Linked DNA regions of Homo sapiens: all the other regions are reported to be linked to region 3. Evidence: microRNA targets listed by miRTarBase, many of them from high-throughput screens and not tested one by one. Region 3 holds a microRNA gene; each other region holds the end of a gene's coding sequence.

What was found. Region 3 holds the annotated microRNA hsa-miR-30d-5p (UGUAAACAUCCCCGACUGGAAG, at 1,555-1,576, opposite strand). A microRNA usually pairs through its seed, bases 2 to 8, with sites in the 3' UTR of a target mRNA and lowers its output. Matches are read on the target gene's strand: a 7mer-m8 pairs with bases 2 to 8, a 7mer-A1 pairs with bases 2 to 7 and ends in A, and an 8mer does both.
Region 1: miRTarBase lists POLR3E as a target of hsa-miR-30d-5p. Seed matches in the 3' UTR shown: 8mer at 2,284-2,291 and 8mer at 2,095-2,102.
Region 2: miRTarBase lists STX12 as a target of hsa-miR-30d-5p. Seed matches in the 3' UTR shown: 7mer-m8 at 551-557.

Annotation. Positions count from the first base shown.
Region 1 is chr16:22,333,295-22,336,368 of GRCh38, reverse strand. POLR3E (RNA polymerase III subunit E) reads right to left here. Exons shown (of 21, transcript NM_018119.4): 21 at 1,273-2,725. The coding sequence ends at 2,669. LOC124903664 (a long non-coding RNA gene) reads left to right here. Exons shown (of 2, transcript XR_007065026.1): 2 at 1-2,459. Among named protein-coding and RNA genes, the nearest start is that of POLR3E, 37 kb to the right of the region's middle.
Region 2 is chr1:27,822,046-27,825,119 of GRCh38, forward strand. STX12 (syntaxin 12) reads left to right here. Exons shown (of 9, transcript NM_177424.3): 9 at 186-2,398. The coding sequence ends at 284. It also overlaps the pseudogene RNU6-1245P. Among named protein-coding and RNA genes, the nearest start is that of PPP1R8, 7.2 kb to the right of the region's middle.
Region 3 is chr8:134,803,365-134,806,492 of GRCh38, forward strand. MIR30D (microRNA 30d) reads right to left here and starts at 1,581; the gene lies at 1,512-1,581. It also overlaps a transcript of ZFAT not described here.

The sequences.
Region 1 (3,074 bases), not on the chromosome of region 3:
AGATTCTGGGCAAGTTGTCTGGTGTGGTCTTCTGTGGGCAGGCTTGTTGCTGGAGTCCTTGAGCAGGCTGACCTAGTACCTAGGTCAGCAGATGGATGAGCCTGGTGCTTGCATGCATAGGATTAATCCTGGAACGTAGGTCCAGTGGAGTGGGCCAGTTGATTGGGTCTGCAGGGGTACAACCAGAGCCTGAGTCCACAAGGGCAGGCCTGGAGCCTGCATCCAGGGAGCTGACCTGAAGCCTAAAAACCTGCAGGGGTGGGCCTAGGTTCTGGGTCCATAGGGACTGTTCTGGAGCCTCAGTCCGCCAGGGCATGCCTGGCATTGAGGCTTACTGAGGTATGTGCCTGGAACCTGGGTCCACTGGAGCCTGGTGCTGAGGCACACATGGACCTTGGGTCCAGGGGTATTGTACTGGAGCCTGGGATTGTGGGTGCTGGCATGGGGGCATATAGATCAGCCTGGAGCCAGGGGTATATAGATACTGGCCTGGAGATTAGTCTCTGAGGGCTCGCTTGGATCCTGGGGCCATGGGGGCTGGCCTAGAACCTGGGGCTGCAGGGGATATTGGAGCCTAGTCTGTGAGGGCCAGCCCAGTGCTGGGGTTTACTCAGATGGGGCTGGACCAGGGTGGGGAGGGGGTGCCTGCTAGAGTGTGAGCTCATGGGTGCAGGCCTGGCAGTGGGTATGCTTAGAGCCTGTGTTCCTGGCGCAGGCCTGGAGTCTGGGGCTGGCATGATTTTGGGGTCCAATGTTCTCCTTCCTCCAAGTAGAGGGTCTCTCTCTCTCTCTCTCTCTCTCTCTCTCCACCCTGTGCTGCCTGGGGCTGGGGAGGGGGTAAGCTAGGTAATGTAAAATTGTCCCTCCTATCCTCTTTAGTACATCTTATTTCTGTGGTACACCAAGGTGCTGTAATCTCTAGAGGTTCCTTAACTCTTGTGAAGGTATTTTTGTGTGTGGACAGTTGTTTAAATTCATGTTTCTGCAGGGGGATGAGTGCTGGAAAGTCCTATTCTGACATCCCAAGTTCCCTCAATTTTTTTTAAAACAATAGTTCCCTCCTATATTCCTTGTTTCTTTTTCTTGCTATTTGAGTTTGGTGTTTTAACCAGTTCTTTTTATCAATGTAAAGTATTTAAGGCTCTGACTTCTCCACTGAGCCAATTAAGTTCTGCAAGGTGATGGGACTAACATTCTGTGCCGTCCCACATGAGCATTTCCCCTTTCAAAGTGAGAAGGAAGTAGGATGGAAAAGCTGAGACATATTCCAAATCGCTTTTGGTAACTTTACTTTTCAGGTTCACATATGTTAACAGAATCAATACACGATCAACTTGTTAAGTGATGTTACCAAATACTTATTTGGCAAAGTACATCCTTGATCAATGCCTTAGTGATTCTATAGCTAAAATATTAGATGTTTTATTTTGGGGGGAGTGGGGAAATAGCATAGACCGTCATTTAAACCTTCAGACAATTAGTGACTGTGTTGTACAAAAAAGATGGCGAAAGCCTTATCTAGATACCAAAATTCACATGTCATCCAACCTAGCTTACTCTTATTTTTTCCATCAGTTTCTAGGGCTGTGCTATCCAATACTGTCGCAAATAGCCCCATGTGGCATCGGAGCACTTATGATGTGGCTAGTCCAAACTGAGTGTTGAGGAAAGTGTAAAATGCCAGATTTTGAAGACTTTTACCTTATGTTGATGTTTTAGATATTTTGAGCTAAATAATATGCTAACATGACCTTTTTAAACTAATGTGGTTGCTAGAAACTTTCAAAATTATGTACGTGACTCGCCTCTTTCTAGTGGACAGTGCTGCTCTGTCTTCCTCCATTAGCTCCGTTCCCTCTAGATACACGTAACGCTGAGCCCAACAAGATCGCCTTCCTGTAACCATTTGAAGATAGCACCATGATGCTAGTTTAGTGTTTGCATTTATTTTAAAAATACACAAAATAGAAATTTTTACATCAAAGTGTGATAACCTCACTTACACATTGTTCCATACTTACCTGGTTTTGTTTGCATCTTTCTGCAAACATTAAAAGGAGATGGATTTGATTCTGATTTTTTTGCTATGGTTCATGTAAACAGTTGAGACTGCTACATAAAGTAGGTTGTTGTCAAAGGTGAAGTGGCCACAGAATCCCAAGAATAGAATAATTCAATTTGGTTTAATGAAATTGGTGGAGGTCTTAGCAGATAGATAATCCAAGACTAAATATTGTCTTCTAGGCATTTTAAAAATTAAGAACTTTGAGGTTTTCTTCATGTTGTAAACATAACTTAGACCTTGTTGGCATTAAGTTTACAAAAGAAAATATTAAACCATGATTTTTATCATCCTGCCCATGTCAGTATACACTCTCTTTATTATGAGAATGAAACCAAATAATAAGCAAAATACATCAGGAATTTCAAATTGTACTGCAAAGAAGGTCCCAGCTGGTCTCTTCTGGGAGTGATCTAACTAACTTAAGCTGACCCTGCGACTGGCTGAGGATAATCCCTTCTGTCCACTGCACCGTGCAATGCCACAGGTCATGAGATGGTCAGTTCCTCTTGCTCTGTGTCGTCTGAAGCAAGTCGAGGCCCTACTTCTGGTTCCGCCCTTCTTCCTTGGGCTTAGATTTGCTGGGTTAGTAGTTTGCTACTATTGTCAAGACTGTACTGTCCCTTTAAGGTACCACATGCCACCATAGCTTACACAGCAGTCCTATGAGAGAGAAACAGGGTAAGCACAGATTTTTGCAGGAAAAGGAGCTAATTACATTCTGTCCACAATGTCAACACTCGATTTATGATTAGTGAATAGAATACAAATGGGAAATCAAAAACTGCCTAACCATACCACCATGGCTACTACCAGCCACCCTTTCCTCAGGGGTAGTGTTTTTTTTTTTTTTTGAAACAGAGTTTTGCTCTTGTTACCCAGGCTGGAGTGCAACGGCATGATCTTGGCTCACTGCAGCCTCTGCCTCCCAGGTTCAAGCGATTCTCCTGCCTCAGCCTCCCAAGTAGCTGGGATTACAGGCATGTACCACTACGCCTGGCTAATTTTGTAT
Region 2 (3,074 bases), not on the chromosome of region 3:
AAAACACTTGCACTACTACCTAGTGCTGCTGACTTAAGATTTCTGGGAAAGTCTGTGCATAATTTTGCATGGATAGAGTTAATCTTTAATTACAAGGAGGCAGATTTATGAAGCATTCTTAGAGTCTTACACATACAAATTTTACTTGTTTCATGAGTATCTTGTTTACATATTTCTTTCCTCAGAAAAAATCTCGCAAGAAGATGTGTATCCTGGTGCTTGTCCTGTCAGTGATTATTCTAATCTTGGGACTTATTATCTGGCTAGTTTATAAAACGAAGTGATTGCCTCCGATCGTTCTCCCGCTGAGCTGTTTTCAAGGGCAAGTGCTTGTTGAAGTCTTGCCAGAACAAACTGATCACAAGAAGACAGCATATATCAGAACGTCCTGTAATCATTTAGTTAGAAACTAACTACTAACTAGTCTTTGGAATTCGTGACCTATGGAGACAGTAATTATCAATTTATTGATTCTATTGATTTCTCAAATTAGGAATTAACTTATGTGGATTTTGCTTCCTCTTGTATTCTGATTGCCCTTCATCCCAAGTGTTTACTGAAAATTCCATTCTAGATATTCTTGTTTTGACAAATGACACTACAGTCTCGTAATATTGTCTTTTATGTATATACAAAATTTACCTTTTTACTAGCATCTGAGATAGAGTTACTTTCTGGTACCCAGTATATTGGAGTCTGTCAGAAACTCTATAATAGGCCACCAGTTTTTATTATTTAACATTTTTATTTGAATTTCTAAGAAGCCTATTCTCTATCTATTTTGAAAGATTTTGGCACTATATTTAATTGGAAGGTAAAATATTGTACATGTGATCCAGAGTAAATGAGAAGTCTCTATCTGAGCTGGTCAGTTACTGGAGTACATGTTACTAATCTGGGTTTAAAGTTTACTTCATTATCTGCTAGTGTCATCCACAGCAGTTCATCCTCATCCACACTAAGCCATCCTGTTAGCTTTTAAAGGAAGTTAATTTAATTAACATTAATATACTCTATGGGCTCCCTCTCCCACCTGTCTGCATAGAAAGGCAGAATTAGACATAGCATGCTTTGGAAAAGCAAATAGGAATTGTTGGGAATGATTTAATCTTGTTGTTGTTGTTGTTGTTGTTCACTTGTGGTTCTACATTCCTGGTGAATGATGAATGTTGCTGTCAAAGGGCTGCCCCCTACCTTATAAGGGTTGCTGGGCATTTGAAGGCAGGAAGATTTTTAAAGATAGATTGAGGTTGGTTTAAAATTATTCCTGTAAACCAACAATAAAGCAAAGAAGAGGTTCATTTTTGTAAATAACACTGGTTTCAAATAGTGATGTTAGACTTAACCTAATTTATAAACAAGAGATTAATATCTCCATGCATAGTTTTAGACAAAAAAAGATGTTTCAATAAAATTACTGTCTTGTAATATAAATGTTGTCCACTTCCCTTTTCCACAGGCCTAGAACAGTTAAAGGGAACATAATTTGTTTAGGCTCCCACATAAATGTGAATCTGGCCAACAACTTTGGTTCATCCTTTAGTGAATTAGAGGATTTGGCTACCCTGAGTATATTTATATTCATTTCTTCTGTTCTCCTTCTGTTATTATACTTAATCTTCTAAACTAAACTAATGTGAACAGTAGGGAAGCAAGGGCCCAAATGCATAAGTTTCTTTGCACTGTTGCACTTACTTAATACAAATAAATGTTTTTTAAAGCTTTTGTAGTATGTTTTTATGAGTTAACATCCTAATGTGGTAGGTATTAGGTAATGTGCTGTCATGAGAAAAATTGAGACTTCCAAGAAAACTGGACACCAGGTGAGGGTTGGTTTGGAGACGGAATAGGTGTAGCTGCCTTTCCTTGAAAAACAGTGTGTAGAGATGGCTGAGTGCAATGGCTCACACTTGTAATCCCAACACTTTGGAAGGCTGAGGCGGGAGGATCAGTATATCGGTACGTCTGAGCCCAAGAGTTCAAGATCAGCCTGGGCAGTATAGCAAGACCCCATCTCCATTTTTTTTTTAATGATTTTTTAATTAAAAAAAAGAACAACAGGATAGAGCTGTTGGGGTGGCACAGTGGCCCAAAGAGCAGCTTCAGAGATAATTCCTTGGTTCTATGATCCCTGTTTAACTCCAAATTACAGTCGGACTTGGATACATCATTTGTAACATTGTAGGAAAGAAAAAAGTCTTGGTTGTGAAAAACGATTTGCATTTGGGTAAAATAAAGTGACCATGCTTTTGTTCTGTAATACTGTGTGACCTGTGGTTGTTGTAATGGTGATCATGGAGAGCAAATATGAACTTGGCCTGGATTTTAAATGGCCTAGAATTTGTGGTAGTTGCCAAAGAGGTTCTCCTAGGTGGTCTTAATAAACCTATTCACAGAATTCTCCTTATCTGTGCCTTGATTATCATTGGGAGCATCACAATCTAGGACAGCAGTTTTTAACATGGCTTCACATTAGAAACTAAAAAAATACAGTGCCCACTTTGGCAGCACGTATATAAAATGGGAACAATAGAGAGAAGATTAGCATGGCCCCTGCACCAGGATGACTTGCAAATTCATGAATTCTCTCTCTCTGTCTCTCTCTCTGTGTGTATGTATATATATACTTTTTTTTTTTTTTTTTTTTTTGAGACAGGGTTTCACGCTGTCGCCCAGGCTGGAGTGCCGTGGCACAATCTCAGCTCACTGCAACCTCCACCTCCTGGGTTCAAGCAATTCTCATGCTTCAGCCTCCCAAGTATCTGGGATTACAGGTGCTCACCACAATGCCTGACTCATTTTTTAAAATATATTTTTAGTAGAGATGGGGTTGTACCATGTTAGCCAGGCTGGTCTGGAACTCCTGACCTCAAGTGATCCGCCCACCTCGGCTTCCCAAAGTGCTGCAATTACAGGCCTGAGCCACTGGCGCCTGGCCGAAGTGCTCTATATTTTTAAAAAAATATTCTCTGTGCTCCTCTTCTTGCTAAAAAATAAAAAATAAATACTGATACCTCAGTCCCACAACTCCAAGATTTTAATTTAGTCTGGAGTATATATAGCTTGGGCATAGG
Region 3 (3,128 bases):
CTGAGCTCAGCAATAACTATCCTTTCACTGCTATTTGAGTCTAAGGTTTCCAATGTGCTAAAACAGAGGGCCACAGAATATGCAATAAATCTGCTTTATTTAGAGTTCATAGGAAGGGATGCTTGATGCATGCTAATCATCCAGCCTGAAAATTGTATTTACAAGTTGGAAAGCCACCTGAGTCTGAAGCAACTGACCCCCATCCCCAAATAAGTCTTATAAACTACTACTCTAACAAAAGAGCATTTAAAAAATAAAAGCTGTAGCACAAATACATCTGGGGTAACTACATTATGACCAAAACTGTCATTTGCTCATCTGGATAAAAGATAAGAGGCAACAGTAGACACTGCTGCAATAAGATAATATAAAATCATTACTAAAGTACTATACATGCAAGGTGCTTTACTTGCTGTTTATAACAGGAAAAAATAGAATTATCAAGATTTAATGTCTCTGACCTCAGAAAGCTTATAATCTAATCAAAGAAAATAAGCATGTAAATACATTAGATTGGCAAGACCTTTATCTTTTGGTGGTTTAATCATGTATGGAACCTAACATAGTATGTTTAGCAGTTTAATAAAAATAAATGATTTAAAAAAACCAATGCTTTATTGAAAAGAAAAATGCCAATAAAATAGAAATGTTTTCCAGTGTCTGAAAGACTAACAGAAATAAAATAACAATTTTTTAAAACTCAGAAAATAGTTGCTATAAAATTATACATTATCAATTAGTCCACACTGAGTGTCATCTGTGAGAAAAGCCCTGGATTATTCAGATCTGTGGGGAAACACAAAAAATAGATACAATACAGCTGCTTTCAGGGCAGCTATATTTTAAGGAGGAAGCAATAAATCTGAAAGCAACAATCTGAAAATACTTAGGAAAAATATTAATATAAAAAGACATGCATACCCATTAGCAAATGTAAACAGGCTTAGTGGCTTGACGTCTTGCAGTTTTTCTTAGAGGAGAGTTCTGATTAGGAGCTGTAATATCACTCAGGGTGAGGGGAACAGGAAGTGGGGGGCTAAGAGGACGGAGAAAAATGTTGCACACACATCTCTTTTAAGTATAGGGAAAGCTGAAATTTCTAGATTGCATACTGCTGGGTGGTAGTGATGAAATTATTCTCCAGAACTTCCACAGAATTTACAATGGAGAAAATCAGTCTCCTGAATTGTTGGGATGTTAAACTCCAGCCTACTTGGAAAGGTTATAAAGACTAAAATTTCATTGACAGGGCAGAAACAGGAATAGGCGGTGACACTTTTTATTTAACTAAATTCTCTAAGGCCCAGCAGCAGCACGCTAAGTCTGGGAAGCTCGAGACGGCATATCCTGTTATTAGGAGAGCACCCTACATTCAACTATCATAATACGTGCACTGTCAGTGCAGTAAAAGAATGCAGCTAAAGATTTCTGAGGTTTTCCCACACATTTTATAGCCTCCTCAACTCCACTCCGGGACAGAATTATATCAAGAGGATGTCTGTGAATAGCCGGTAGCAGCAAACATCTGACTGAAAGCTTAGCTGTGTCTTACAGCTTCCAGTCGGGGATGTTTACAACAACAGACTTTCTGAACAAGAAATTTAAGAGGAGGAACAGACATAAATGTTGCCAGTCATCATCTTCAGCTAATAATTTATATAATTTCTAGTGCTGAACAATAGCTGTGACATCTTGAAACAAAAATGATAAAGTTAATGCTAATAATTAAAGAGAAAGTGGTTCACCAAGTGCAATTTCTCCTAAATAAATCTAATTTTAAAAGAAAATACGCATTACAAATTTATCTTGGTAAGTATGAAACATTAAAGATATTACCCTGATATCCTACATGAGGATACATTTTTCCAACATATGCAAAAATAAGTTTTCTTCTCCCTAGAGTTTCAAAATAGTAAACACATTAGAATGATAACCCTAATGATCAGTGACCATACATTTCATGGATGCCTGCTGCCCTGACGTTATTGTTAAAAATGACTCCTTTTATTTAAAAAAGCGTTAATTTAGTTGACAATGAATAGAGTGGGTTTTCCTGGCAGAGGATCTAAACTGAGTAAGAATCTAACACTTTCTTCCCCTGTCTCCAGCTGATTTAGGTTAGGGATGTACAGTTCAAGGAAATGAGCAAAACAAAGAGGATAATAAAAGAAACTCATGATCTTAAATTTGTTTATAAGGCAATATACTAAAACCATTTTGTTTCCACACCACTTTTCTGAAAGAAAGGAAAAAGACTAAGTGAAATATAAGTAAATCTGCATTCCATCAAAAACCAAGATTTGCTTTAATTTAAAATATGTAAAATTGCCAGGCACAGTGGCTCATGTCTATAATCACAGCACTTTGGGAGGCCGAGGCAGGTGGATGGGTAGATCGCTTGAGTCCCGGAGTTCAAGACCAGCCTTGGGCTAAGTGGCAAAACCCTACCTCTAAAAACATACAACATATTAGCTGGGTGTGGTGGTGCATGCGGTCCCAGCTATTCGGGAGGCTGAGGTAAGAGGATCCCTGAGCTTGGGAGGTGGAGGCTGCAGTGAGCTGAGCTCATGCCACTGCACTGCAGCCTGGGCGACAGAGTGAGACCCTGTCTCAAAAAAAATAAAAATAAAAATAAAATAAAATATGTAAAGTAACCTTCTTTTGGGGAAAAAAACTATGAAAACAATTAAAGTCCACAATTAAGTCACAGTGATTTATGAAATGATTTAAGAAATGAACATACATACATACATGAGCATGCATATGTACACACACACTCTACAGAATAACTACTGAAGAAAACCAATATACAAATTCTGAGAGACTATTAATTTCCTAATACCAAATTTTTTGAGAAACTATGAGAAAAGGATTTCAGTTGCTGATATTTACCCTGTGATAATATTTAACGGTTGCTCTCTGAAATACTTTTTGTTTAATGTTGTAAATAACTCTACCCATTATATAAATAATGCTGGAAATAATGAGGAAAGTACATGTGGTCTCTATGGATACAAGATGACCTTCACTGTTTTTGAAGAAAAATACTTTTTTAAAAAGTCCAGTGGCTATTTACAACAACAACTATTCAAACTGTACTACAACTGAAACTTTCCAGATTTAAATCA